Regions from separate parts of the Homo sapiens genome. Here region 1 is linked to region 2. A link means that fine-mapping ties the variant in region 2 to the expression of a gene that starts in the linked region. Tissue or cell type: whole blood. Region 2 holds a variant in brackets; the other region holds the start of a gene. Each region is shown on its reference strand, or each on the opposite one. Region 1 holds the start of MAPRE3 (microtubule associated protein RP/EB family member 3). Region 2 holds the start of REST (RE1 silencing transcription factor).

Evidence for each region. PIP is the estimated chance that this variant, and not a neighbour inherited with it, causes the effect. A credible set is the group of variants that fine-mapping cannot tell apart.
Region 1: MAPRE3 starts here. The variant in region 2 is the best candidate, but not a certain one, in a credible set for the expression of MAPRE3 in whole blood (TOPMed, PIP 0.62).

The regions. Positions count from the first base shown.
Region 1 is chr2:26,961,146-26,976,671 of GRCh38, reverse strand. It overlaps MAPRE3 (microtubule associated protein RP/EB family member 3), which reads right to left and starts at 6,035. Exons shown (of 7, transcript NM_012326.4): 1 at 5,870-6,035. LOC124905979 (a long non-coding RNA gene) reads left to right here and starts at 11,600. Exons shown (of 3, transcript XR_007086251.1): 1 at 11,600-11,673. RefSeq lists a silencer at 5,821-6,150.
Region 2 is chr4:56,895,940-56,911,465 of GRCh38, reverse strand. It overlaps REST (RE1 silencing transcription factor), which reads right to left and starts at 3,566. Exons shown (of 4, transcript NM_005612.5): 1 at 3,253-3,566; 2 at 1-836. The coding sequence starts at 827. RefSeq lists enhancers at 1,320-2,249, 3,180-4,109 and silencers at 2,340-3,189, 3,300-3,689, 3,789-4,083. The variant A/G (reference allele first, on the strand shown) is at 7,808.

The sequences.
Region 1 (15,526 bases), not on the chromosome of region 2:
CCTTATTTACTTGAGGCAAATGAAGCATCCAGAGCCTAAAACACTGACGTTATGCTAAAAAGTTGACTAACAACATCTGGTCAGTTTAGCAAAGCTGGTAGGGCATGGTGCTAGTGAGTGCAAGATCTAGGCTTATGCTAGTATTGGCCAGTCAACTCTGTGCACAAGAAAAACCATCCGTGGCCACAGCATGCTTCACGAAACTTGGCTAACTGTCACACGAAATTGTACTCTTGGCCAAAGGGAAGACTGGGTGATGGAATGTGAATTACTCAGCATAACCCATCCTAACTCCTGGGTAAGCAACCCAAAGCACATGTCCAAATGATAGGTGTGTCATCTTTCTATAATAAACATGACATCTGGCTAGAAAATACAGCTGGCCAACTTACGACAAAATTAAAAGCTGAACAATCCTTAAGGATTTTATCAGAGTTTACCAGTAATTCCTACCAGAAGCAGTTAATCAGTCATTATGTGAAAGATGTGCTGTACCAGCCAGGTCTGACCTAGAACTTAGCTACACAGTGTGCCAGCATTTCAGCTTGGGTCCCTTTAAACTTCAAGCCCTCTTGACATTAACTAAGAGGCAGGAATTTTTCATGAAGGTCATATAGTCAGATGCCATTTTCATCAATAGCTGAAAATTAGCTTATTAGAATAATTATGATTATTTTAGCTGGTCAACAGATGGAGGGGACTATTCTCAAGAGGGGAGTGAAAAGACTAGGAAGAGTTGATGGGGTAGGTGGTCAGTTAAGTACCCTGGGCTGACCGGGAAGCAGCCACTTTGGAGGGTCCTGCCCTCACTTAAGAGCTTGATTTGGTGCAAACTGCCTGGGCCTGCTTGAAGCTGTCAAACCCTATTTGCCCCAGGCATGGGAGGCTCCAAGTAAAGGCAGCTGCTTCTTTTGTACCAAAATGTATTTACTGAACAACAATCACTACCCATTCTATTTGGTCTTCATTAAATGACTAAAGCATACATGCTTCTTATAACAAGTCAAATACAAAAACATATAAAGTAAAAGTTCCCCTTTGAGTCTCCTTTTCCCTTCCCCACACCCAAATCCCACCTCCCAGAGGTAAACATTATTGCGTTTCTTTTCAATCTTTAGATGTCTATACATGGGTATTTCCTTCCCTACTGAAATTTATCTAGGAATTTAAATTCACTTTTGCTCTTGCACCTGAACAGCTTGCCCTGGTTCTTTAATTACTCAGTAGTTTCTGCCTTGAGCCAGTCTGTAATTCTCTCCATCCAAAATGACCTCCCTTTACCTCTGCTCACTGGCAAGGTTTCCCTCTTAAGATGAATAGCTCCTTTCCCTTGCCCCCTGGATCTCACGGATGCAGAAGCTGATTTTAGCAAAGTCACCGATGAAATCTATGCCTCTACCAGTTGAGGAAGTCAATAAAGACCACATGTGTGTCCCTCACAAGCAAGAGCTCAGCAGCTTTTCTATTTCAAATGAAGACCACTCCCCAGACTGGCCTCCCTGCTGGAGAACTAGCCACCCCCACCACACACCCAAGCACACCACATCTGTGCCTCCTAAAGTCAAATGCTCCTGTCCTGCCAGTCTTTCAGGTTGGCTGAATACATGGAGCAAAGATACATTTCATATACTCCGGTTTTGGCAGTTGAAATAATAATGCAAGTGCCGGGTCTTCCCGGTACAAACCTTTTCTCTGTTCGTGTCAAATACCGAGAGGGGTGCTGAGAGATGGGGGCTACAAAACTGAGAGTCCAAGATGGACCTAAATCACGAAACAATTTTGAAACCATTATTTGCTATTTTATGCTTTAGTCAATATAAAATAATCATTGCTATTTCTTATGAAGCAAGCACTCTACATACTCCCTTTCATTTAATCTTCACAACAACCCTGTAAAACAGATAGTTATTATTCCAGGGTTATAAATGAGGAAACTGGCATTCAGAGGTAACATAACTCACCCAAGGCCACACAGCCAGGAGATGGCTGGATGGGGATCTGAACTCAAGTCTGCCTGCTTCCAGAGGTCAGGCTGCCTCCGCGCTTCCCAAGGAGAGGGTTTAGAAGTCCTTATGGCTCCCAGAAACTACAAAAGGTTCCATTCTGAGAGGTGGAAGATAAGCCCGCAGCTGCCCAATGTGCACGCTCCTCCTCTCAGCCCCATCTGCCTCTCCACCTTGCTTTCTGGAATGCGGCAGTCTCACAGATAAGAAGTAGAAAAGACTTCAAATACCCAACTTCACATTTGCTTTTCTGTTAGTTGATGCAAATTAAAAAAAGAAAGACCTTCCTGAAGTCAGAATGTGTGATAAAAAATATTATTTTTAAAGTGGCAAGAATAAATATTTAGTTAGACAGTTTGACACAAAATTTTGCCTGGCTGTGCAGCATCTCAGATGACAAAACAAGCCCTTGCCTACAGGGCTAATTACGGACTACTAAATTATTTTTATTAAAACCCTTTGGAACATTATGAGGGATGAGGCAATGTGGTGTTGAAGAATAACTCTAGTCTGGAAATCTGGAGATCTAATCCTGACTCAGCCACTAATAACCACCAACATTCATCTGCCTAGTGTACACAGTTTACAAAGTGTTTTTACATACGTTCTGCATGGGTTGGGTGACCTTAGGTAAGTCATTTAACTCTTGGTGTCTTGTGTCAACTTTAGAAATGAGGGCATTAAACTATACCATCTGGGGTCACCTCCAGTGCTAACATCCTAAGCGAGGGAGACATGTGCCTTGGGACCTTTACAAATGTATCTGTAAGCAAATCAGGGCAGATGCATTCTGTTTTAAAAAACTATATTTTCTGGCCAGGCGCGGTGGCTCACGCCTGTAGTCCCAGCACTTTGGGAGGCCGAGGCGGGTGGATCATGAGGTCAGGAGATGGAGACCATCCTGGCTAACAAGGTGAAACCCCGTCTCTACTAAAAATACAAAAAATTAGCCGGGCGCGGTGGCGGGCGCCTGTAGTCCCAGCTACTCGGGAGGCTGAGGCAGGAGAATGGCGTGAACCCCGGGAAGCGGAGCTTGCAGTGAGCCGAGATTGCGCCACTGCAGTCCGCAGTCCGGCCTGGGCGACAGAGCGAGACTCCGTCTCAAAAAAAAAAAAAAAAAAACTATATTTTCTGTTCGGCTTCTGACAAATGTTACTCGGCTAAATTCAGGAATAGCTCATAAGACGTTTGCTGCCAGTTAGTTGGCTCAGTTTCTGGAGAGTACCACATTAAGACCCTGGGTTGGATTCTCATATGGGAACTTTCCTCCGTTCAATAGCCTCCTACTATGCCTAACTCCAGCCAGTCATCTTACAAATACAACCCCACAATGTGTGCTGGCGTGCAGGAAGGACTAGAAGAAACTCAGCTTCACAATGCATGCACTCTCAGGACGGTAGGTCAGAAACGGCATCATCACACAGGAATACTATCAATAGCATTCTTTCTCAGTTCCAAGATTCACAAATCCCTCCCTCAAGTCTTGCCATTTCCCGAGGGTTTTAATGTTTCTAAAATGAGGATGCACCTTGGAATCAGCATATATATTTTGATCTGGTAGCATTAGATTATTTTACCTAAAAGCTATTGGTAAATTGCTGGTGTGTCTTAGAATCAAGAATACAGTCCTACAAAACCTCAATACCATTACATAGATTTAGGTCTAACTTGGTTCAAATCATGTCCCTCTCCTTGATCTTAACAATTACATTCAGCAACAGCTGGATAGGCAATGTATAAGACAAGTATTAGTCCTGTTTCCTCATAGTAGCAGTTTAAAAGGCATTCCATCATTATCTCATAAAACACTGGTATGGATTTCAAAGGCAAATTAATCCATATAAAAACTACTCTGATCCTCTGAAAATGTACTATCCCATAGCAAACTGGAAAGGAACATTTTACTTACACCCTCCTGATCTATCTAGCCTTGACACATTTTCTTCCTCCTTAATTCACAACCCTCCACCCCAGTAATATCGCTGATTCCCAAAATACACTCAGCCCAGGAGGAGCAGCTCTCCAGTACAGCTGTCTGCTCCTGCCCTGCTCGGGTATTTTGGTGAGCTATGTGACACAGGACCACACAGAAGGAATGCCACTCTCAGGCCCCACAGTTCCCACTGCACCACAGGCAGGTGCATCCCACCAAACCCCAGTCTGGCATTCGAAACAGAAGAAACTGCCCTGCTGGATGGGGGCTATAGTTTTCCTGAACTTCATCTCTATGTTTAAAACTAGGGCGACAGCCGTCTTGGCTACTGTAAACTAATCTGATGGGCATGGGGGCAGGGAGTGGCTATGAGGAGGCTGCCAATAGGCCATGATTGAGCAAAGTAAAGAGTGAAATAGTTATTTCTCATTGTTTGCAACCCCGGAAACTCCAAATGAGTGGCTCCTTCACCATGATTTTTAGAAATGGACCATGCGTTCCTTTTACCATCTGGAGTAAAAATCCCAAAGCCTCTTGTGCGGTAGATCTGGCTTATATTTACACGTGCTTTCTAAAAGCACACTGAAATTTGGAAGCCAAATAAAAAAGAAGCTGACAATGAGGTCATATAGTAGTTAGGGGCCCTCAAGTTGAGACATGTTTATTAAGAGTTTCTGGCTCTGGGCACTAACTCTGACTTCAACTCAGTTCTTCTGGAAAAAGAAAACTGTTTGGGACCCTCTTCTATTCCAAGAACAGGGACTGCAAGATGGGCAGGTGGAGGGGTAGCAAACATAACCCAGGGAATTGTCCAAATATGCTAGAACCCCTATCTGGTGACAGCCCCACAAAGACACACAGCTGGAGGAGGCACAGTGTACAGGCCTCACACCTACACCATGGAGAAGCTTCGATTTTTCTCCTTCCTCTCAACTCTGCACACGTTATGTTAAAAACTCACTACTATCCAATTAGTTAATTTACAGGAATCCAAGATCAAGTCCTGCCACAGCCCCTTCATATATAAACAGTAAGCACTTCCTATGGATGGTATCAGGCCTTTTTCCAAACCTCACATTATACCAGGGTTGTAGTGCGATTTAAAAAAAAAAAAAAGCATTTTAAAGAGTTCCGCAAGATGCTTATTCACAACACCACACCGGAAGCGCAGGAACTTGGAGCTCCCAAACGCAACCTCTTCTCCCTTCCCTCCACTACTTCTACTCCCCGCTCCGCAACACCGGCCGGGCAGTAGCTCAGCCCACTAGAAGGCCACCAGGCACTAGCCGCGTTCATTAAACGCTAGATGATCACGATGGGGCTGAACCCTTCCCAGCCAAATCTATTCGGAAAGCCCTGCAAGCTCTGAGCAGCCAGTGAGAACTGTCCAGACCTGCTTCCCCAAACCAGCCAGGCAGGAGCGTGTGGGGAAGAAACCCGAGGCCCCCAGGCTGGGCCTGGCCCGATGTTCCCCCTCCCCCAAGTCTCCCCTCGCTCTCCTGTCACTCTTTTTCTGGCACATCACTGGGGAGATCCAGAGAGGCCGGGAGATGTCAGGCCTAGGAGGAGTGAGGAGGAGGGAGAAGGGATAAGGGCGGACGGGAGGTAGTTTGGAGAAAATATCAGCCCAGGGCAGAGGTGCGGTGGCCACGTCTAGTGGGGAAGGAGCCTCAAGGTGGACCCGGAGAGACGGAGGGAAGGGGAGGGGAGGGAAGGGGAGGGGGAGTGGCTGGGGAGGCCGGGCCGCCAAGGCCGGAGGGAACCCGGCGACAGGGATGGAGGGGGTTGACCGGCGCGGGGAAGGCGCGGTCGGGATGCGGGAGTGCGGGTGGGGAGGCAGGGGCGGGGGGAGCCCGGTTCCCCTCCCCCAGCCCGGGCCCTGGCCTCCCGCTGACTCAGCCCCACGGCGTCCGTCGCCTCGGCCCGGACTCACAGTGCACGAGGCGGCTCCGGCGGAGGCGGAGGGGGAGGGGACAGGTGGCGGGGGCGCTGCGGCAGAGGCTGCGGCTCCGGCCGGCGGCTCCGGGGCGGAGGGTCCTCGCTGAGGCCGCCGCGGTCTCCGGCTTCAACGCACAGAGACTGCGGGGGACGAGGGCACTGCGCAGGCGCGATGCGGCCGCCGCTGTCAGTCCGAGCGGGGCGGGGCCAGGGCACCCGCCGTCTCCAAGGCAACTGAGCCGCGGGAGGACAGCCCCTACCTCCACCTTGCCTTAGCGATTGCGGCGGGAGGCGGGGGGCGACAGGAACAGGCCCACTGCGTTGCCGTAGCAACGAGGAGAAGAGACCGCTTCAGACGTGTGCGGCGGTACCGAGGGAACGCGCCTACCTCGTCACCATAGCAACTGGGAACAGCCCCTTCCTTTTTCCCTGGCAACAGGGTAACAATCCCTCCGCCCTGTCTCATCACAGGAGGAACAACCGTGTGCACCTGATTTCAGTAGCTGGATGACGGATTTTCATCTTTTATGGCTACGGAAAAGGAAAAAGAGACGTTTTCTTCTCTTTCAGCGACATGGAAGAGCTAAGGCTGGGTTTTATCTCCTCTCTTGGTGTGTGGGTTCCAATCACAGTCTTTTTCTCTAATTCCCAAATTCATTTTTTTTTCTTTTTTTTTGGGACGGAGTTTCACTCTTGTCGCCCAGGCTAGAGTGCACTGGCGCGATCTTGGCTCACTGCAACCTCTGCCTCCTGGGTTCAAGCAATTCTCCTGCCTCAGCCTCCCGAGTAGCTGGGATTACAGGCGTGCGCCACAATGCCTGGCAAAGTTTTTGTATTATTAGTAGAGACAGGGGTTTCATCATGTCGGCCAGGCTGGTCTCGAACTCCTAACCTCAGGTGATCCACCTGCCTCGGCTTCCCAAAGTGGTGGGATTACAGGCGTGAGACACCGCGCCCGGCCCAATTTTTTTCTACCTGTTTTAAACATCCCCTTTCATCTCCTACCAGAGAGTGTGCCCTTTACCCTTAAATCGAGCTAACGAAATCGTCTATCCACAGACCACTTGAGTTTTTGTCAGCCTTATTGTCTCTCTCCCATTGCAAGGATAAACACCTCATTTCTTCATCTTGCTCACTATCTGGTTTGCAGTCCACTTCCTCATAACTAGCTCCCTCTGACATGTCCATTCGTTTTCCCGAATTTCCTCCTCCAAGCATGCTGTTATGGATCTCCTCGGTTCTTCTGGATCTCCCTTTCCTCTCCACACTTGCTGTCCTTGTCCAGCACTGCTCTGCCCGGGGCTCCAGTATGTTCTTTCCCCCTGTGACTTCAGCATCTTGGTTCTCTTTGTGCTGATGTCTTCTGGCTCTTCCTCCCTCAGCCCTGATTCCCATGGATGCCTTGAGGTCACCTTTGTACCAACCCTGTACATTCCTCCTTTCTTACACACACCTTACACTATCGTCATTTGTTTACGTGTCTGTGTCTCCAGACTATGTGACCCTGGTGGGCAGGAATTCTGTCTTTTTCATCAGCTCCCTCAGCATCCACCACAGCATGTGACACATAGCAGATTCTGAGAAATGCTTATGTAATTGAATCAAATGAAGACAAATCTTTTCCTTCTTCTTTTCTCTGGCCTAACTGCCTCAGAGTCCCAGTCCCCATTTCTAATACCTTTACACATAGTTTGTCTTTTAGTACTATGCTACTATTATAAGTCTTTCATCTCCTTAGCTTTCCATCCTGTTAATTGAGACTCTGGCATTCTCTATTTCCTGAATCCTCGCCTCTAGCTCTTCTCTCTTCTACACTATCCCAAATGTTTCTACTAAGGTAAATTTCCTCACTGGGTACCAACCCCGTGACTCCCATACCCTCCATAATCAGCGTAAGCTCTTCACACCTAACCATCCTGATCATCCCCTAACCAGCTCTAATCAAGCCTTCTTGGTGAACGTTACTGGATTCTGCTGGGCTTGTTGACATGCCAGAGATGCAGCATTCTCTTCAAACAACTCAAAAGCAAGAGCTCACAACCTAGCATTCTCTTCCAAATCTCCCTGTCTAGCTCCCACAGATTCCGCCGCAGGACTATTGGTGCCAAAGCACCCCAACTAAGCCCATTTTCTTGGGGAAAAAAGAAGAAAGTTACAAATAGAGTAAGTAAGAAAAGAGAGGGGACACAGCATATCCTCTCTTCTTCCACCTAAAGCAATTATCAGAAAGGAGAGAGCTCTTTGTAGACAATAATTCCCAAAACAAATCAAGGGGTTAGGAGAGTAAAAACCCAGGCTACACTTTTTTCTAGCCACAGAGTTGGACAACTGGAGCTGTTTCTAACTGCATCTGCAGGGTATCTGGGTGTCACCAAGGCAATAGGGAAGTCGCACGCTCAGTTTATCTTGCTTTCCCATTCTGAAGTTCCAGCTCAGCTTCATTGTTACAGGTATAGACTTGGGTGGTGTAGACTGTCCTGAGTAATCCTGAGAAGAAGCTATGATCCTTGTAACCCCACCCCTTTGTCATACACAAGGTAGAGGACCATTCTACAAAGAGTTCCTATATACCCTTCACCCAGATTCTCTACATATTAACATTTTACTATGTGCCATTAACTATTGCTACAAAATGAATCACTCCAATTCAGTGGTTTAAAGCAACAACCATTTCGTTATCTCTATTTCTGTGGGATGGGAATTCAGAAAGCCCGCAGTTGGATGGTTCTAGCTCAAGGTGTGAGTCAGAAGGTGGCTGAAACTTAAACAGCAGGGTGCTTGCTGGACGACTTTTTATGTTGTCTTAGTGCTTATAGATCATTTGTGTAATTTCTTTGCACGAATGTCTAGTCAAGTCCTTTGTCCATTTTTGAATCGGACCGTTTGTTTATTGTTGTTGAGTTTTAGGATTTCTCTATATATTCTGGATATAAATCCCTTATCAGATAATATATGATTTGCAAATTATTATTATTGTTATTGTTATTATTATTTTGGGCCAGAGTCTTGCTCTGTCACCCAGGCTGGAGTGCAGTGGCACGATCTCAGCTCACTGCAACTTCCACCTCCCAAGTTCAAACGATTCTCACGCCTCAGCCTCCCGAGTAGCTGGAACTACAGGCATGCACCACCACACCTGGCTAATTTTTGTATTTTTAGTAGAGACAGGATTTCGCCATGTTGGCCAGGCTGGTCTCAAACTCCTGACTTCATGTGATCCACCTGCCTCGGCCTCCCAAAGTGCTGGGATTAATGGCTTGAGCCACCCACCACACCCAGCCCCAGGACAGTTTTCTAATACTGTTAATTCCACTTCTTTAGCTTGTTTGTTTGTTTAAGACAGGGTCTTGCTCTGTTGCCCAAGCTGGAGTACAGTGGCGTGATCACGGCTCACCTACAGCCTTGACATGCTGGGCTCAAACAATCCTCCCACCTCAGCTTCCCAAGTAGCTGGGACCACAGGGGTGTGCCACCACACCTGGCTAATTTTCTTTTAGATTCTTTTTTTTTGTAGAGATGAGGTCTCGCTATGCTGCCCAGCCTGGTCTCAAACTCCTGGGCTCAAGCAATCCTCCAGCCTTGGCCTCCCAAAGTGTTGGGATTACAGATGTAAGCCCAGGGCCTGACCCTAATTCCACTTGTTGTTGTTGTCTTTGAGACAGGGTCTTGCTCTGTCACCCAGGCTGGAGTGCAGTGGTGTGATCATAGCTCACTGTAGCCTAGACTTCCTGAGCTCCAGTGATCCTCCCACCTCAGCCTCCTACATAGCTGAGACCATAGGCATGTGGCACATGCCAGCTAATTTTTGTGTTTTTAGTAGAGACAGGGTTTCACCATGTTTCCCAGCTGGTCTAGAACTCCCAAGCTCAAGTGATCCACCCACCTTGGCCTCCCAAAGTGCTAGGATTACAGGCGTGAGCCACCGTGCCTGGCCTCCACTTCTTAAATGCCTCTCAAAACTCTTCCCTTCTTTATCTGCTTCACCTTTACCATCTCTTGCCTGGGTTACTGCAGAGCTTCCCGCCTGCTCTCTCTGCCTTCAGCCTCTCTCATCTCCAATCCATTCTTTACACCATTGTCAGAAGGCTCTTTCTAGAAATAAATCTTATCACATAACTATCCTGCTTAAATCCCTATGGCTGTCCTCAGACCTGCTGAAGCAACTTCCGGGATGGGGGATTCATGTAAGGAAACAGGGCGGAAGAAATATAGAATAGATTATCTTCCTCATTTTTTTTTTTTTTTTGACCCAGGCTGTCATGCAGTGGTGCGATCTTGGCTCACTGCAGCCTCTGCCTCCCGAGTTCAAGCAATTTTCCCACCTCAGCCTCCCAAGTAACTGTGACTACATGTGTGAGCCACCACGCCCAGCTAATTTTTGTATTTTTTGGTAGAGATGGGGTTTCACCATGTTGGCCAGGCTGGTCTCGAATTCCTGACCTCAAGTTATCCTCCCACCTTGGCCTCCCAAAGTGCTGGGATTACAGGCACGAGCCACTGTGCCTGGCCCTCATTTGTTTTTTTGAAGTAGGGTCTTGCTCTGTTGCCCAGGCTGGAGTGCAGTGGTGTGATCATGGCTCACTGCACCCTTGAACTCCTGGGCTCAAGCGACCCTCCTGTCTGGGTCTCGAAAAACACTGGATAACAGGTGTCAGCCACCAGGCCTGACCTCTTGAATTTTATTTATAATAAATACATCTTTAAACGTAATCTTTAAATTTTATTTAGAGATTCAGAAAATATTTATCTTATTTTAATTTTAAATGTATTTTTATTTATTTATTAAGGTAAACATTTTTATATTAAAACAAACAGACATAAGATGGAGTAGAATATAAGAATCACATGATTTCAAAGACAAGACCTTTAAAGAGAGTTTGAGCTCAACATGGGCTGCCCTCTATTCCCATGCCTGTGTTATCCACTGCCTTGGGGTACTTTAAGTGGAAAAGTTTGAGAAACATTGGCTTAAAGGATATAAAACTTCAGACATCTTCACATGGTGGACAAGCTCTACTACAATCTGGCCCCTACCAACCATTTCCCCTTCACCTTCTACTCCTTTTGTACCCTATCCCCTACTCCAACTTTTATAGTTCTTGCAGTTGGCCAAGCAAGTGGTTTTGTTTTGTGGCTGAGCCTGCCTTGCAGGGTTGCCCTTCCTTTCCCTTCATCAGGCAAACTTGGACTCATTCTCCAAGACCAGCTTTTGTGTCACCAACTTGGTGGCATGGTCATGGGCCTCCCCCAGAGAACCGACTTGCTCTTTCTTTTTTCTTTTTTCTTTTTGAGACAGAGTCTCGCTCTGTCGCCCAGGCTGGAGTGCAGTGGCACAATCTTGGCTCACTGCAACCTCCACCTCCTGGGTTCGAGCGATTCTCCTGCTTCAGCCTCCCGAGTAGCTGGGACTACAGGTGTGCACCACCACGCCCGGCTAATTTTTATATTTTTGGTAGAGATGGGCTTTCACCATATTGGTTAGGATGGTCTTAAACTCCTGACCTCGTGATCCTCCCGCCTCAGCCTCCCAAAGTGCTGGGATTACAGGCGTGAGCCACCGCGTCCGGCCCCTACTTGCTCTTTCTCCTTGGTACCGGGTCCATTCTTTGTTATGGTTCCCCTTTGCCTTCAGTTATTATGCTTATCCCCATGTTTCCCCATAGGAGGGCCTCACACTCAAAGACCATATCTTATCTACCTTTGTATTCTTAGCACCTTGTACTTTGCATTCTTAACATCTTGGAGTAAAATCACCCAAGCAAGTTGAAAAAAATCTGATCCTTCTGCACTTTCCCCAAGGTAAGTGGGCAAACCAGAGGAGTCTAAGAGGGTGGATTAACTCTGTGAGTTGCGGGGCTAGAGTTTAGATTGGAGCAAGCAAGCCTGCCCTGCCCCGGCTGTGAGGTGGAGACAGGAAGGTGCTGTAAAGTTGGTAATTGTTACCAACTGCATTCATTATTCATTTGAAACTAGCTAGAAGTGGAACAGGGCACTGAAATAAGACTGATTCCCACAATACAGGAAACCTTTGACATGGTTTTGAATGTTTACAAGAGACCTATGTAAGTCATACACAATTTTGCTGAGGAATGAATTTTAATTACATGCCTTGAAATGAATGAGCCCTTATTTAGAGAGTGCATCAACCCTCCTCCCTGCTGGAGTTACACAAGCACTGGGTCCAACACTTCCTAGCTATGTGACCTTGGCCTTGGTTTTTCTCATCTGTAGTTGTGATGGTTAAATGAGATAATGTGTGAAAAATGCCTGGCACTGCCTGATGGATAAATATCCAATAAATGGTGACTATCAACACTAACAAAACTTTCGTAAGGGTCATTCAGTAGGATCACTACTTGATCCCCCCTCTCCGCCCCAGTTATACCTTCTATATAGAAGCTAGTGTGGAAACTGAGAACTTGCAAAGGTCTTAAGACACACCTGTGAACATTAATGACCTGCTGTTTCCAGAATGCCGAGCAACTCAGGGCCCCAGAACTATTCTTTCACCCCTCCCAGCTTCTGCATCTCCATCTGCTGTTCCAGATGCTCTGTAGCCACAATCTGTGCTTCTCTTCATAGTGGTCACCAACTCAAACTTCAAGGGCCAATCCATGCAAAGGTAGTGTAAGATAGAGGTTAGGAACATTGGTTGGGGAGTTGGACTCGAGTGAACACACTAAATCTACCACTTACTTGCTCTGTGGCAAGCTATTTAACTCAGTTTCTCCATCTGTAAATTGGGGACAATAATAGTAAATACCTTGGAGAGTTAATATAAGGATTAAATGAGATCATGTTTATTAGATACTTAGGGCAATGGTGTGGGCATTCAATACATGGTATTAGCTATTATTTCTATTTAAAAGTGAAGTGTGGGCCAGGTGCAGCAGCTTACGCCTGTAATCCCAGCATTTTGGGAGGCTGAGATTGGAGGATCGCTTGAGGTCAGGAGTTTAAGACCAACCTGTTCAACACAGTGAGACCCCATCTCAAATAATAATAATAATAATATAATAAAATAAAAGTGAAGTGTTACATTCATTGTAGACAGTCTCCCAAAGGAGGTAAAGTTAATTGTTACCATGGCTGACACTTTTAGTTGTCTCTTTCTCATGATAATTATATATTATTATTATTATTATTATTATTATTATTTGAGACAGAGTCTCATTCTGTCGCTCAGGATGGAGTGCAATGGCACCATCTCAGCTCACTGCAACCTCCGCCTCCTAGCTTCAAGCGATTCTCCTGCCTCAGCCTCCTTAGTAGCTGGGATTACAGGCGCATGCCACCATGCCCGGCTTTTTTGTATTTTTACAAAAATAGTAGAGACGGGGTTTCACCATGTTAGTCAGGCTGGTCTCGAACTCCTGGCTTCAGGTGATCTGCCCTCCTTGGCCTCTCAAAGTGCGGGATTACAGGCGTGAGCCACCGTGCCTGGCCTGGTAGTTATTTTATAAAACTAGCATATATTCAGATCCTATGGCAGCCAGGCATGAGATACATACAATTTCTTATAACCTCCTTGGTCACCTTCTGAGGTTAGTATTATTCCTTCCTTTTTTTATTTTTTGAGATGGAGTCTTGCTCTGTTGCCCAGGCTAGAGTGCAGTGGTGCGATCTCGGCTCACTGCAACCTCTGCCTCCTGGGTTCAAGCTATTCTCCTGCCTCAAACTCCCGAGTAGCTGGGATTACAGGCGCCCACCACCACACCCGGCTAATTTTTGTATTTTTTTGTAGAGAAGAGGTTTCACCATATTGGCCAGGCTGGTCTTGAACACCTGACCTCAGGTGATCCACCTGCCTCGGCCTCCCAAAGTGCTGGGATTACAGGTGTGAGCCACCACGCCCAGCCAGAGGTTGGTATTATTCTTATTTCCACACATAAACAACAGAGGCCCAGAGAGGTTAATAACTTACCTAAGATAACACAGCTAGTGAACATCAGAAGTGGAGCTTGAACTTAAAGTCAACACCAAAATCCAGACTTCTTCCACTATCCCATGCTTCCTACATTTTCTTGTGTGTCAACATGTCTTTTTTCAAACTCACCTCTAAATGCAGGAGCTACACTTGCTTCCTGTTGTCATGTCTCACACATGCCTGGTAGATGTTCTATAAGCATGGATTAGACAGAAGGTGGAGAACTCCTGTAAATAAACCTAAACTAGAATTGCCACATAAAGACAAGACACTTTAGTTAAATTTGAATTTCAAAAAAACAAAAAATAATTTTTAGCATAAGTATGACACAGACATTATTCGGACATAAACTAAAAAATTATTTTTTATCTGAAATTTACATTTAACTGGGCATTCTGTTTTTTTTGTTTTGTTTTGTTTTTTTTTTATGGGATGGAATCTTGCTCAGTCGCCCAGGCTGGAGTGCAGTGGCACGATCTCGGCTCACTGCAAGCTCCGCCTCCCGGGTTCACGCCATTCTCCTGCCTCAGTCTCCCGAGTAGCTGGGACTACAGGCGCCCGCCACCACGCCCAGCTAATTTTTTGTATTTTTAGTAGAGACGGGGTTTCACCGTGTTAGCCAGGATGGTCTCCATCTCCTGACCTTGTGATCCGCCCGCCTCGGCCTCCCAAAGTGCTGGGATTACAGGCGTGAGCCACCGCGCCTGGCCCGGCATTCTGTGTTTGTATTTGCTGTATCTGGCAACCTTATCCTAAATTCTGAGATTGGTCTTGAAAGGGACAGCTTCCTCCAGGGAGCTCCAGACGGGAGAAGGCTGCTATGGCCACTCACTCGCACTCGAGGCAGAGGAGCCTGAGCTGCTCTGGGGGCAGGGATTGGGGCCTGGTAACCTGGACACACCTGCCATTCCTTCAGCTTTATCTGTTCACATCGTAAGCCAAAGCAGCGACCACTGATGAGCTGAAAGCGCCATCTGGAGGCCTTTACAGGTAGTACAGTGGCCACGGGCCATCCCACAAGATCCAGGACTTGGGGAGCAGAGAAATGCCAAACCAGACAGAGACCACGCAGAAGAGGAAGCCAGCCTGGAGGTGGCCAGGGGCAGGGGAAGATGGATCTTCCTGGCATTTTCGGTTTTCAGCAGCTGCTGCTCTGGCCGCCTGGGGGTGAAGTCACTCTCCACAGGAGGTTACTGGCTAGGGCTTCACGTTCCTGGAATCCTCTGCCTCTCCAGCTGTTCCCAGCTCTTCCCCAGGCTGGAATTCATGGCCTTAGGAGAAGCACCATAACCTGGGTTGGCTGAGGGTATTAGGGCTCATGCTTGAGGGTAGTTTTAAAAATCTTCACCCTCCGTCCTCAGAGGCTCATCAGTCATGATTATCTTCCAAGACAGAACAGTCTTTAATCCCATGGGCCAATAGTTACAGGGAATTTCAGCCCCACTCCAACCTTAAATCAGTAACACATACGTGTATAGCAAAGTACTTAGCATACAGTAGGCGTTTAATAAGCATTACTTCCCTTTTCCCTCTGGATTGAATGCCTCTCCTCCTCACCTCCATCTCATCTTCCCAGGCTCTTTGTATGTGATATGAAAGGCTACCCTTAGCATCTCCTTCTTCCTCAGTCTGGGGGCACAGGCACTGAGGACAGTCGCTCCTGGTGAACTGACCTCCCAAGCGGGCATGGCCTGCCACATCCCCAATCCTTTCGGAGCAGCAGAA
Region 2 (15,526 bases):
TATACTTTCCTTGGAAAATGGTTTCTTAAATGTTTCCTCCAGTGATACTCGCTCACTGTTGTGTATGTGCAAATGATACACTTGTAGACTCGCTCATTATCCCCAGCTCTGGTGTGGTGTTTCAGGTGTGCTGTATAGTGATCATATCGATTAGTATTGTAGCCGCAGCGGTCACAGCGAATGGGGCCCTTGGAGAAATCTCCCTCTTCTGCAGTGGAAGAGCCAGATTCCCTGGCTTTTGCCTGCTTCTCTGCACTCTCTTCCACAAAAAATTTCTTAGCACTGTGAACTCTGATGTGATGCACAAACTGTTCTTCAGATTCTGCTTCATATTGGCATGGCTTACAGCGAAAGGGTTTGGTCTTCGAGCTCTTGCCTTTGTCCTCCGCTCCAGGTGTTTCAGGGGGAAGATCTTTATTTGAACTGTAAATATCTGGAGCACCTGATGCCTCAAATACAGGCTGAGGTTCTACGACGCTGAGTTCCAAACTTCTCAGTTCCATGTTTTCCAGTCCATGAGGTTCACCTTTTATATCAGCAGACTCTTCAAGTCCTTCTCCTTCTTCACTATCTGAAAAGTTGTTATCCCCAACCGGCATCAGTTCTGCCATCTGTCTTTCTTCACCGACCAGGTAATCACAGCAGCTGCCATTTACTTCCCCAGTTAAGGCCACATTTGCCAGCATAATAAGCTGAGGTGCGGCCAGTTCAGCTTTGGAAAGGTCATGCAAGTCATACATGTCGTTAGGCAGGGCCATTCCAATGTTGCCACTGCTGGTAAACAGCCCTCCTCCTCCAGAAGACTGCCCCATTACCTGGGTGGCCATAACTGTATTCTGAATTAAAAACAAAACAAAACAAGAGCACCAGTTTAAACACTACTGTTACTGGCTTAAAACCACATCGCTGTAATTCTTCATAACTTAAAAATTTTCCAGTATGATCTTTATAACTCAGTAAACTTCATCGCCTATTAAAAACAAATCTTTAAAATAGTTGTTAATTCCCAATAGTCTACTGCAATCACCAAAAAAAAATTTCTACTATCCCTATAAAACAATTCTACCAATTGTTTGCACAACTCATTCATCATTCAGCCACTGGCATGTGGTGCCTCCTCAAGCACTTTTAATTGTTCTGGTGGGGATAAAAAGTAACCTTCATTTTTACTGTTAAAATTATTTTAAAAATTCAAAACATGAGTAGTAAATTATTGTCCTCCCAACTTTTCCCCCCTTCAACAGTTCAATGGTCTGAATCAGAAAGCCCAGAAATCCACAAGCCATTCAGTGCATTTATTAAGTACACAAACACATCTGGAAAGTACAAGCCTGTAATAATTGTTCAACTTAATTGGATTTCGCATGAACTCAACTAACTCCAAAAGAATAAACTACTGTGAAAAAGTAGCAGTCAGCCCCTTAATTTTTCGACAACTCCACAGGCTTAAAAGAAAAAACATTTATGGACCCCTTTTCTTGTGAAAAAGGAAGTTTGATTTATTCAAAACTTCACAAATAAAAATTAATAAGCTTATTTTTCTGCAGGCTGAAGTTCCACAACACTGAATTCCAAGCTTTTCAATACGAATAAAATCATCGTGCAACTCAACTCGACAATCAGCAACTTTCTTGCATTGTGCTTGACTTGGCCTACTTGCCTAGTGGAAGCCATTACAAGATCACCTTCTTCAAAACAAGTTGGGCTTTCTAGATGCTACGTTACTTCTCAATCTAAAAGGTGCCATTCTCAAACGAAGTGTTCACTCGCAAATTAAAAAAAGTAAGAAGTTCTAAGAAAATAAAGTTAAACCGAAAATACAAAAAGTAACCCGCTTCACCCAAGTGTATAAACACAAACCGGTTTAGTTCTACGTACCAACAAAAGTTGGAAGCAAATGCCATCACAGAAAACAGAGGGCGAAGGCTGTCCCGGGGCTGAACAGCCCAAGCTATTGGGTAATTTGGCCCAACATCGACTTTTCTAATTGCTCCCTAACCCCTAACTGCCACCCCAAATGGAATTTTAACGATTGTTAGGAAGACCGTCCAGGCACAGCCCGAAAGCCCAACGTGCTGCACGAATTCCTCCGTGCTGCTGCCACCAGCGCCTGCCTCGGCGGCGGCATTCCTAACTGAAATAGGCATTCGGCCATTTTCTCAAAATACCAAACACAAAGCAGCTCTTTGCAAACTCGGGCGCTCTCGCTTCCTCTCGCCTCGGCCCGCTCACTGCACACATTTACACACCAACTCGCGGGAGTCGCCCCGACACTCGTCCTGAGCCTTTTCCTGCGCTCTCCAACACTAAAACGGGGGAGGGGATCAAGCTCGAGGCGCTGTTTGGCCGGAACCAGTCCTCCCCGAGTCCAGGCAGCCCCCTCCCCAGCCCTAGGGCCCCCGTCCCGGGAGAGGACGGAAAGTTACCGCGCAGCCGGCGTCCGGGCTTCTCCGACCGCCCCCGGGCCCCTCCGACCGCCCCGGGGCTCGCCCAACGCCCAGGGCCGGGGAGGCTCCGCGGGCGCCCTCGCGAGGCGTCGGGCTCCGAGCGCCGGAGGGGGCCCCCACACGGGCCAGCCGCCACCCCCGCGCCCCGGAAGTTTGCGAACTTCACTCCCCCACGGCGCCCGGCAGGACGCGCGCCCCAGCCCCGCCAGCTCCAGCGGTCGGGTGGCCGGACGCGGGGGCCAGCGGCGCCGGACGGCTGAAGCGCAGAAATCGCTGTCCAGCCCCGCAGGCGGAACCGCCCGGGCCCCGGGGCTGACTCAACCCGCCCGGCCGCACTCAACGGCGCCTTCCGGCGACAGGGAGAGGCCCTGGGGGAGGGGGCCAGGAGGGCCGCGGGCCGGCGCGGGGCTGCGGTGGGACCCGGGGGCAGGAGGAGGAAGCAGAGGAAGTTTCAGGACTACGGGCCCGAGCAGCTCCGCTCCTTGGCCTCAAAGGACCTGACTCGGTGGAGCGTCCGGGCCAGCGCGGAGGCGGCGTCCCAGCCTCCAGTGGGGAGGGGGTCCAGGCGACGCGCTGCTCCCAACAAACGCCCCCAGCCCCCGGGCGGCTGCTGTGTAACCCGATCCTGCTCGGCCGCCAGCCCCCGCCCGGCGGGGCCGCCGCCGCCGGAGCCACAGTATCTGCAAATCAGCCCTGGACAGCGCCTGACTCCGCGTCCTTCCGCGCCCTCCCCGTCCCGCCACTGCCGCCGCCCGGGCGGCCCTCCCCCACCCTGACCGAGCCCCCAGCCCAGCGCCCCACTTACCGGCCTTCCTCGGTGAGGAGGGGCGGGCGACCCTGAGTCGCCGCTCCTTCTCCGACTACTTTTCTTTGTTGCTGGAGTTTCGGGGGAGAGGTGGGGGAGGGTGGTAAAGTTGGGTGCTGGGGCCGTCGTGGACCAAGAAGGCCCAGGAGTGGGGCTGCAGAGGGTGCTCAGGCCTCCGGGCCTCGCCCTGCCGTCTCGGCTGCGGCAGCCGCCGCCAGGGTCTGGGGCCCCGGGCCTCGGCGGCGCTCGCTCCGCTGCTGCGCCGCGAGCTCGCGGCAGCCGCACATTCCAACACAGGACGCTGCGCCGCGCACCCAGTCCGCGCCGCCGCCGCCGCCACCGCCCGCGGGACACGCCCCCTCCGACGCCCGCGCGCGCCCGCGAGACACGCCCCCTCCGACGCCCGCGCGCGTGGCCGCTAGGCGCGCCCCGCCCCTCTACCAAGCAAGGAGTGCCCCAGTCTCCAGCTCGCCTGGGGGCGCGTCTAGGGGGAGCCGCCCGTAATCCTCCCGGCCCCTCACTCCTGCCCTTAGGTCAGAAAAGAGGCGGGCCCCACTCCCTTTCTCGATTTCTATTACAAACAAACAACAAAAGTTCCCCCCAGCCCTGGCGTGCATGCATGAGAATAGAGCTGTTAAAAGAAGAATCCGCAGGCTTTGACGGGTCTCTTTAGAGCTATTGTCACCGGCCTCTCAAGTCTAAAGCGCTCCAAGATACCCTTCAGATCTCTTCAAGTCTCCACCCATAGCTGTCCTTGACTAATTAAGCTTCGTTTTAAGCGTCTGCGGTAAAAAAAAAAAAAAAAAAAAAAAGTCTTCCAAATTTCAAACTACCGGAGGGGGAATGCAGTCAGTTTGGGAGAAGTGAGAAGAAAACGTTTCAGGAAGGAGGTTATGGACTCAGAAAGCGTGAGCGTGAGGACTGAGGGGACAGATCCCTAGACGTGGCAGGTAGCAGGTCATTGCTGAGCCCGGAAAGCACGACTGCAGGGGAGGAATTACCCTCAGATGACAGAAGAAAAGGTGGTGAGGACGGGGAGGCTGCCTGGGGCCACGGTGTGTCGGAGTAACCGGGCTCACGTCTATGAAGCGGGATAACCAAGCGGAATGCCTAGCCCATAGTCATGTGCTAACAAAAACAAAAACAACAAAAAAGAACAGAGAGAGAGTAATTCCACCCCCTTTCACACCTGAAAGAGCTTCTCAGTCTGCCTTTGATACCTTCCTAAACGTCAGTCGTAAGTCACACCTGTCCTCAGAAGCATAGTGGCTCCCCATGACTACAAGCTTAAAGCTTAAACCCCTTAGTGTGGCGTTCAAGCCCCTACTTAACTTGACCTAGATAAGTCTGACTATTGCTTGGTATTACAACATAAGTAGCAAGTGCTATGGGGGTTTGCCAGTAGGAAGATGGATCCCAAGAGGTTCTAGAAACTTTTCACAGTAGATGTATTCAGTCTGACCTTGGAGAATGAGGAAAACTTCAACAGGTGGAAAGTAGGGCAAGGAACACTCTACACAGTGAAAAGGGCAAGCTCAAAATCCCAAAGCAGTTGTTAAGACATCCCAGCTTCTCCTCAGGGTACCTCACTTCCTTCTCTTTGAAGTTCCTTTATTTGTTTCTCTTAGGGCAGGGCTTCCAGACTCTTCATTTCCTGGTATACCCACGTAGGACCTCTGTTTCCCTCTATCTGGACAATATATTACTAATTAATGCAGTCTCCGATGCAAGATGAAATGAAGACCCTAAGGTGCTCGACCACCAAAAGTTTCAATGAGGCAATTTCAAATGTAACACCTCTCCATGAATCAAACCTGAAAAGTATTCATTTTCATTGAACCAAAGAGACAGGAAGGAAGGGAGGGAGGGAGGGAGGAAAGGAAGATCGACATTTTTAGGACTGGTACAAACTTTTCTATATATATTTTATTTGTTTAACTAAAATCAAGTTTGAGGTCACATGGCTTTTTTAGATGCTGTAGCCCAGGGTACAATTCAGGCCTCTACCAAGGTTGTCAAAGACATAAACTTGTTTTCTTTCCCTTTTTTAGGTCCAAAAAGGCAAAAATGAAATGTCTCTTGTTAAACTTACTAAATGTCCTTCATTTCCTCAATCTGACTGCTTACTGGAAATGTCTTATTAATTGCAAATTTATTCCCACATATTGTGATGCAAATAGAAGAATGGCGAATGGGCAGCTGCATTCATTTAAAATTAGCAGAGGCCCTTGTTCAAGGGATGGCATATTCAGAGTGACCCAAATTATCATGACATGAAGGCCACAGGTCAAATTCATAGGCCAAATTACAAATCAATTGAAAATTTTCTTGAGGGAAGCTGTTGCTATGAACTTGAATTCCTAACTGTTTTTCAAAAGTCTGTATTTTACTTTGCTGTATCCAAACTTTAGGATCTTCTGCAAGATAAAAACTCTGAAATGAGAATGAGTTCTGCTTTTCTTATATGGTTTTTTTCCTGCATATTTAACTCATCAATTTTTTTATTTTAATTATCATATGTTCTTAATAGTATTTTCTCTAGAGAGATTTCTTTCTTTTTTTTTTTTTTTTTTTTTTTGAGACAGAATTTGGCTCTTTTTGCCCAGGCTGGAGTGCAATAGCACGATCTCGGCTCACCGCAACCTCCGCCTCCCGGGTTCAAGCAATTCTCCTGCCTCAGCCTCCCGAGTAGCTGGGATTACAGGCATGTGCCACCACGCCAAGCTAATTTTGTATTTTTAGTTAGAGACGGGGGTTTCTCCATGTTGGTCAGGCTGGTCTCGAACTCCCAACCTCAGGTGATCCGCCTGCCTCGGCTTCCCAAAGTTCTGGGATTACAGGCGTGAGCCACCACACCTGGCCAATTATATATATATATATATATTATTTTTTTTTTTGACATGGAGTCTTGCTCTGTCACCCAGGCTGGAATGCAAAGGTGCGATCTCGGCTCACTGCAACCTCCACCTCCCGGGTTCAAGTGATTCTCCTGCCTCAGCCTCCCGAGTAGCTAGGATTACAGGCACGTGCCACCTTGTCTGGCTAATTTTTGTATTTTTAGTAGAGATGGTGTTTCACCATGTTGGCCAGGCTGGTCTTGAACTCTTGACCTCAGATGATCCACCTGCCTGGGCCTCCCAAAGTGCTAGGATTACAGGTGTGAGCCACCCCGCCTGGGAGTCTTGCTCTGTCGCCCAGGCTAGAATGCAGTGGCAAGATCTTGGCTCACTGGAACCTCTGCCTCCTGGGTTCAAGCAATTCTCCTGCCTCAGCCTCCCGAGTAGCTGAGATTACAGGCACCCGCTAGGACGCCCAGCTAATTTTTGTATTTTAGTAGAGATGGGGTTTCACTATGTTGGTCAGGCTAGTCTCGAACTCCTGACCTGAGGTGATCCACCCGCCTCGGCCTCCCAAAGTGCTGGGATTACCTGTGTAAGCCACCGAGTCCAGCCAGCATCATCTACTCTTGCTGCCGGTTGGACTCTGACCTCTTGTTCTGGTTCTGATAACTGGAATAGTGTCTTACTCATTATAGGCATCAACAGCTTGAGCCAGGGAGGTTTTCCCTTCATGCTGAGAAGGGAAGGAGGTGAACAAGAGAACTTGAGACTTGAGCTGGGCTCCTTCCTGCCTTCTTTTGGAGCCTAGATCACATTTGGAACCCGCTCCCATTTTCGTCCAATCCTAATGCCCTTCCCTGCTGTTTCTGCTCCCATTTTCGTCCAATCCTAATGCCCTTCCCTGCTGTTTCTGTCTCTAACATTTATTACTAACATGCTAGGTATTTTTATTTATTTACCCTACTTAGGAACTTAAGCTCCAGAAAGGCAGAGACATTTTTTTATCCCCAGCACCTATAACTCGTTAGTTGCTCAACAAATATTAGTTAGATGAATGGTTACAAAATCCTAGCTTGGTATCACAATCTCTCAAAGTGGGGACCATCCTTACCCATGTCGGTACCCAACGTTCAGTACCCATCACAGTCTTCCCTCATGTTAAGCATGAGCCTGCCTCCTTGAATCTCCCTAATAACTACTGTTAAATAAATTAATGCTCCTGGATCCCTGGTCTTGGGGTTCTACCCTCCTGGTGAAAATCTCCCTGCCTGCTCTTCTGCATATTGTATTCCTAGCACATTCCTGATTTCACGCATCAGCCTCTGGTTGGATATTCCTTGGTGATCATTAACAATCTGTTTTGGCCAGGTGCGGTGGCTCACGCCTGTAATCCCAGCACTTTGGGAGGCTGAGGCAGGCAGATCACCTGAAGTCGAGAGTTCTAGACCAGCCTGACCAACATAGAGAAACCCTGTCTCTACTAAAAATACAAAATGAGCTGGGCATGGTGGCACACGCCTGTAATCCCAGCTACTTAAGAGGCTGAGGCGGGAGAATGGCTTGAACCTGGGAGGCGGAGGTTGCGTGAGCAGAGATCGTGCCAGTGCACTCCAGCCTGGGCAACAAGAACAGAACTCCATCTCAAAAAAAAAAAAAAATGTTTCAACCTTAGGTATCGTTCCATTTGATGGGTTTAAATACAAGTTACATAGCCT[A/G]TCAACTGCATTGCTCTGCCTCTCTCTTCTCTGGCCTTTACCATTGTCCTTCCTTCCAGAATTCTCCCTCCAAATGTTATGTAGGCCACAAAATGTCACAAATGCAAGAGATCTTAGAGGTGCAGGCTCTTGTTTTATATGTAAAAGGAGACAGGCCTACAAGCTTTTGGCTTGTCCAGGTTTGCACAAGTAGTTAGGGCACAGATGGAGGTAGGACCCATGACTCAATTTCCAGCCAGTCCGGTGCTCTTTCCATGTCTCTCAGACACTTTGTCCAGTCTTCTTTCTGCTCTACCCTGGCCCTATTCCCGAAAACATCTTTTAATCTTTGGGGCCTGATGGGCCACTATGTACAATGGCTTTAGAGATGTATATATTTGAGATAGGGGGACTTTTCAGATCCGCAATTCCATAACTCTGAAGCCTACTTTTTATATTAAGATTAATTACCTTCTGGGCCAGGCCCAGTGGTTCACGCCTGTAATCCCAGCACTTAGGGAGCCCGAAGTGGAAAGATCACTTGAGCCCAAGAGTTCGAGACCAGCCTGGGCAACACAGTGCGACCTCATCTCTAGTAAAAATAATTTTTTAAAAATAGCTGGTGTGGTGAGGTGTGCCTGTAGTCCCAGCTACTTGGGAGGCTGAGGTAGGAGGATTGCTTGAGTGCAGGAGATTGGGGCTGCAGTGAGCCAGGATCACACCACTGCACTCCAGCTGGGTGACACAGCAAGACCACGTCTCGAAAAAAAAAAAAAAAGATTTATTACCTTCTGGCTTGGGAAGCAGAAGCCCTTATTGTCTTCCATGGCATTTAAAACACTCAAGAGCCAACATTGACATGTTAATTTACAAAGCTAATCATCAATTTAGAGGAATATGGACTTGACTCAGAAGACAACTTCTGGCAACCTTTCCCTTCTTCCCAAGGAGAGGTTAAAACCTTCCCACATGAACTCCTAAAGTGCCATAAGTATACTCTTGCGCCTGTTTTCTTTCCCATGTCTTTCTCATCTGTCTGAGAGGGTCTAGAGACAAGAAACTGTGTTGTGTGTTCTCAACATGCTGATATTCCTGACACAGTAAATAAAATCAAACTTCTGGCAAAGTGTATCAACCCAAAGCTAAAGCCAGGCACTGGCTTTATGCATAAATGTTTCCTAGATTAATGAACCTGTACATTTTCCTTGTTTGTCTAAAAATTATCACTAAACCTACTAGAATGGCTAAAAGTTTAAAAAGCTAAGTATAAAATGCAACAAGGGCTGGGTGCGGTTCTCATGCCTATAATTCCAGCACTTTGGGAGGCCAAGGGGCGCAGATCACTTGAGGTCAGAAGTTCAAAACCAGCCTGGGCATCATGGCAAAACCCTGTCTCTACCAAAAATACAAAAAGTTAGGTGTGGTGGTGTGCACCTGTGATCTCAGCTACTCGGGAGGCTGAGGTGGGAAGATCACTTGAGCCCAGGGGGTGGAGGTTGTAGCAAGCTGAGATCGAAACACAGCACTTTACAGCCGGGCACAGTGGCTCCCACCTGTAATCCCAGTAGTTTGGGAGGGCGAGGCGGGCAGATCACGAGGTCAGGAGATCGAGACCTTCCTGGTTAACACGGTGAAACCCTGTCTCTACTAAAAAGTACCAAAAAATTAGCCAGGCGTGTTAGTGGGCACCTGTAGTCCCAGCCATTTGGGAGTCTGAGGCAGGAGAATGGCGTGAACCTGGGAAACGGAGGTTGCAGTGAGCCAAGATTGCACCACTGCACTCCAGTCTGGGCGACAGAGCGAGACGCCGTCTCAAAAAAAAAAAAAAAAAAAAACAATGCGACAAAGATACTGAGCACCTGGAATTCTCTCTCTCTTTTCCTCTCTCTCCCTCTTCTCTCTTGAGACAGGATCTTGCTGCATCACCCAGGCTGGAGTGCAGTGTCATGATCTCAGCTCACTGAAACCTCTGCCTCCTGGACTCAAGCGATCCTCCCCCTTCAGCATCCCGAGTAGCTGGGACTACATGTACGACCTACCACACCCAGCTAATTTTTTAAAATTTCTTTTTTGTGGAGACATAGTCTCACTATTTTTCAGGCTGGTCTTGAACTCCTGGGCTCAAGTGATGCTCCCACCTTGGCCTCCCAAAGTGCTGGGACTATAGGAGTGAACCGCCTGCCTAGCCTATGACTCTAATATTGCTGATGGAAATGCAAACTGTTGTTAACAACTTTGGAAATGCAACACTTTTGCAAACTTGAATTTTCTTATAGACACTTAGCATATAATCCAGTCATCACATTCCTAGATATTTACACAAGAGAACTGAAAACCTGTGGTACCTAAAGACCCAAATGGGAGGTGTCTAACAACTAGAAACAACCTAAAAGTAGTCTAGACTGTGAATGAAAAGCAAATTTGTATCTACCCATTCAATAGAATGATATTGTTGGGGAGGAAAAACTTTTCCTCTATCCTCTTAGGTTGTTTTTTTTTTTTTTTTTTTTGAGACAGAATCTCACTCTGTCACCCAGGCTGGAGTGTAGTGGTGCGATCTTGGTTCACTACAACCTCTGCCTCCCATGTTCAAGCGATTCTTCTGCCTCAGCCTCCTGAGTAGCTGGGACTACAGGCGCACACCACCACGCCCAGCTAATTTTTGTGTTTTTTGTGTTTTTTGAGATGAAGTTTTGCTCTTGTTGCCCAGGTTGAAATGCAACGGCATGATCTTGGCTCACCACAACCTCCGCATCTCCACTTGCGGGTTCAATCGATTTGCCTGCCTCAGCCTCCCGAGTAGCTGGGATTACAGGCACACGCCACCACACCTGGCTAATTTTGTATTTTTAGTAGAGACGGGGTTTCTCGATGTTGGTCAGGCTGGTCTCGAACTCCAGACCTCAGGCGATCCACCCATTGTCTCAGCCTCCCAAAGTGCTGGGATTACAGGCGTGAGCCACCGCTCCCGGCCTATCCTCTTAGGTTTAATCATTGGCGGCATGCAAATCAAATTGACAAAAGACATACTGGCAACATAAAAGACAAATTTTTTTTTTTTTTTGAGACAGAGTCTCTCTATCCCCAAGGCTGGAGTACAATGGCGCGATTTCAGTCTACTGCAACCTCCTCCTCCTAGGTTCAAGTGATTCTCATGCCTCAGCCTCTGGAGTAGCTGAGATTACAGGCACCCGGCACCATACCCAGCTAATTTTTGCATTTTTAGTAGAGAGCCTTTCACCATGTTGGCCAAGCTGGTCTTGAACTCCTGACCTCAGGTTATCTGCCCGCCTCAGCCTCCCAAAGTGCTGAGATTACAGGCATGAGCCACTGCTCCCAGCCCAGAAAAGACACAATTAATCATATATTAAATGTACATAAAAGATTTGATCAAAAAATGTGATTCACGGGGCAGTTGGAATCTGGGCCTATATACCAACTTAATAGAGGAAGGAGAGAGGGAAAAGGGCACTTAGGAGAAAACAAATGACTTTTTGGAAAGACAAATGGGCTTTAGGAGAATAGATGGGAGATATGATAGTTTTGTAACAATGCCTTTTAGATGTGGTGTGCAGACTTCTCTCTCTTCTTTTGTTTTTCTTCAAACCTTGCTTGGTTGAAAGTGACTTCTCATTAGTGGTGATAAGAGTCAATTGTCCCTGGTTGCTTTGCTGGGAAGGGATTTACAAAAACTGAATTCTTTTGGGAGGCTCTGCTTTCAGGGATATAAGAGATTTCAAGAACTCAGATGGCCTTCTACTCAAAATAATTTTTATGCCACAGCTGTGTATTCCGGACTCATTCAATAATAAAATAAAGTAACTACAGATACATGCAACCACATAGATGAGTCTCGAAAGCATTATGCTAAGGGAAAGAAGCCAGATGCAAAAGGCCACTTACCTCATAATTCCATGTGTATACCATTCAGGGAAAGGCAAGCTATGGAAACAAATCAGTGGTTGCCGTGGGCTGGTGGTAAAGGAAGAGGATTGACTACAAAGGGCACAAAGGAATTTTGGGGGGTGACATAATTGTTGTATTTACTTATTTATTTATTTATTCAGAGACAGGGTTTCGCTCTGTTGCCCAGGCCAGAGTGCAGTGGCATAATCATAGCTCACTGCAGCCTCAAACTCCTGGACTCAAGAGATCCTTCTCCCTCAGCCCCTCAAGTAGCTGGGATTACAGGCATGCACCACTCTGCCAGCGGGGTGATGTAATAATCAACATCTCAACTGTGGTGATGGCTACACAACTATATACATTTCTCAAAATTTGTAAAACTAAACTACTTACAGCCAGGCGAGGTAGCTCATGCCTGTAATCCCAGCACTTTGGGAGGCCGAGATGGGCGAGGTGGGGAGTTCAAGACCAGCCTGACCAACATGGAGAAACCTCATCTCTACCGGGCGTGGTGGCAACAAGGGCGAAACTCCATCTCAAAAAAAAAAAGAACCTGAACTACTTACAAGGGTAAATTTTACTGAATACAAATTATACCCCAATAAACCTGACTTTTAATAAATAGAACTATAGGCCAGGTGCAGTGGCTCATGCCTGTAATCCCAGCACACTGGGAGGCTGAGGCAGGTGCGTAACTTGAGGCCAGGAATTTGAGACCAGCCTGGCCAACACGGTGAAACCCCATCTCTACAAAAAATACAAAAATTAGCCGGGCATGATAGCACGGGCCTGTGGTCCCAGCTATTCAGGAGGCTGAGGCACAAGAATTGCTTGAATCCAGGAGGTGGAGGTTGCAGTGAGCTGACATCACACCACTGCACTTCAGTCTGGGCAACAGAGTAACACTCTGTCTCAAAAAATAAATAAACAGGCCAGGTGCCGTGGCTCACACCTATAATCCCAGCACTTTGGGAGGCCGAGGTGGGCAGATCACGGGGTCAGGAGTTTGAGACCAGCCTGGCAAACATGCTGAAACCCCATCTCTACTAAAAATACAAAAATTAGCTGGGCATGGTGGCCCGTGCCTGTAGTCCCAGCTACTCGGGAGACTGAGGCAGAAGAATCGCTTGAACCCAGGAGGCAGAGCTTGCAGTGAGCCGAGATCGCGCCACTGCACTCCAGCTTGGGCCACGGAGCAAGACTCTGTCTCAAAAAAAAATAAAATAAATGAAAATAAATAAATAAATAAACACAAAACTATAAACAATAGATACTAGTTTTTGTGTGAGTGTTTCAGGTATATGCATTGTTTTGGTAAAGTGTTCAAAATCCTTTCATAAAATGTTATATCTGAGAATGTCTTTCCTCCTGATACAGTCTCTATTAATTTATACTAAAAAGTCACTTCCTATCCTTAACCCTATTTATCCAGCTGGTATTTTTTTTTTTTTTTTTTTTTTTGAGAAGGAGTCTCACTCTGTCGCCCAGGCTGGAGTGCAGTGGCACGATCTCGGCTCACTGCAAGCTCCGCCTCCTGGGTTCACGCCATTCTCCTGCCTCAGCTTCCTGAGTAGCTGGGACTACAGGCGTCCGCCACCACGCCCGGCTAATTTTTCGTATTTTCAGTAGAGACGAGGTTTCACCGTGTTATCCAGGATGGTCTCGATCTCCTGATCTCGTGATCCGCCCGCCTCGGCCTCCCAAAGTGGTGGGATTACAGGCGTGAGCCACCGCGCCCGGCCCAGCAGGTATTTATTCAGCACCTTCTCTGTTTAAGGTGCAAGGGTGGTGTGGGGCTAGGAGGTGGGTAGAGAAGTATAAAATGGGTTTTGACTTTCACCAGCTTATTATCTAGTTGAGGAAATAAAATATATCCTGCTTTAGTAAAAGCACAGTCAGTAAGAGCTTTTAGAGTTTGAAGAATTTGCTTCCAGCTAGTAGTCTTGAGCAAGCTTCAAGGAGGAGGTGGAGTTTGTTTTGCCAGAAACGATGCAGCCATGGCACAGTTTACATGGGGAGAGTCCAAAGTACAGAGATCAGTTACCTTAAGGTCATCCCTAATGTGTCAGTCCATGAAAGGCAGGGTAACTGATCCTCGTGAAAGATGAAAAGGCAGAAGAATCAATGCAGGAAAAACAGCTAAACCAAGATGGCACACCAGCCGGAGTTGGAGCAAAAGAATACTGAAGATGAAGTGCACAGGATCAATGGGGTACAGACACCCTTTTACATATGGGTGTGGCTTGCTCCAAAGAGGTATTTAAAAAGCAGGGATCTGGCCAGGCACAGTGGCTCACAACTGTAATCTCCCCGAGATTGTGCCACTGCACTCCAGCATGGCGACAGAGTGAGACTCTGTTTCAAAAAAAAAAGGCTGGGCATAGTGGTTCATGCCTGTAATCCCAGCACTTTGGGAGGCTGAGGCAGGCGGATCACGAAGTCTGGACTTCAAGACCAGCCTGTCCAGTATGGTGAAACCCTGTCTCTACTAAAAATACAAAAATTAGCCAGGCATGGTGGAGGGCGCCTGTAGTCCCAGCTACTCAGGAGGCTGAGGTAGGAAAATCGATTGACCCCGGGAGGTGGAGGCTGCAGTGAGCCCAGATCTCGCCACTGCACTCCAGCCTGGGCAACAGAGTGAGACTCCGTCTCAAAAAAAAAAAAAAAACAGCAGGGATCAAGTCTCTCAGCAAAGCACAACCAATAGCACTACAATCCAATCATAAGCATGGATGTCACAGACAAACTGTAAACTAATGAAGTGCAAGAATTGGGATGAAGTTGAAGTCTAAATTCCTGGATTATACTAAGAAGAAATAACGTATTTCCATAAGAAGCTAGTCTGCATGTAATCTATAAAGACAAAAAAGAAGGTGAAACATTGAGCATTATTAGGCCAGGCGCAGTGGCTCACACCTATAATCCCACCACTTTGGGAGGCAGAGGCGGGTGCATCACTTGAGATCAGGAGTTCAAGACCAGCCTTGCCAACATGGTGAAACCCCATCTCTACTAAAAAATACAAAAATTAGCTGGGCATTGTGGTGAGTGCCTGTAATTCCAGCTACTTGGGAGGCTGAGGCAGGAGAATCACTTGAACCCAGGAGGCAGAGGTTGCAGTGAGCCCAGACCGCACCACTGCACTGCAGCCTGGGCGACAAGAGAGAAACTCTGTCTCAAAAAAGAAAAAAAAGAAAAATTGGACACTATTCACCTAAAATTGTCTAACGATTATTGAGACACTGAATCTGGTAGACAGAGATGCATAATGTAGGTTTAGGACAAGGATAGTTCACTCAGATTTTTCATGGCTTAGATAAATGTCAAGTTTTTGTTTTGTTCTGTTTTGTTTTTTTTGAGACAGAATCTCGCTCTGTTACCTAGGCTGGAGTGCAGTGGCACGATCTTGGCTCACTGCAACCTCCACCTCTCGGGTTCACACGATTCTCCTGCCTCAGCCTCCCAAGTAGCTGGGACTACAGGCGTGAGCCACCATGCCTGGCTACTTTTTGTATTTTTAGTAGAGATGGGATTTCACCATGTTGGCCAGGCTGGGCTCAAACACCTGACCTCAAGTGATCCACCCGCCTCTGCCTCCCAATTACAGGCGTGAGCCACTGCGACCAGCCAAATGTCAAGATTCTTTATCTCTCCTGACATGAAGTTCATACTCGACTGGGCACAGTGGCTCAAGCCTGTAATCCCAGCACTTTGGGAGGCCGAGGCAGGTGGATTACCTGAGGTCAGAAGTTCGAGACCAGCCAGGCCAACATGGTGAAACCCTGTCTCTACTAAAAATACAAAAATTAGCCAGGCGTGGTGGCGCAGGCCTGT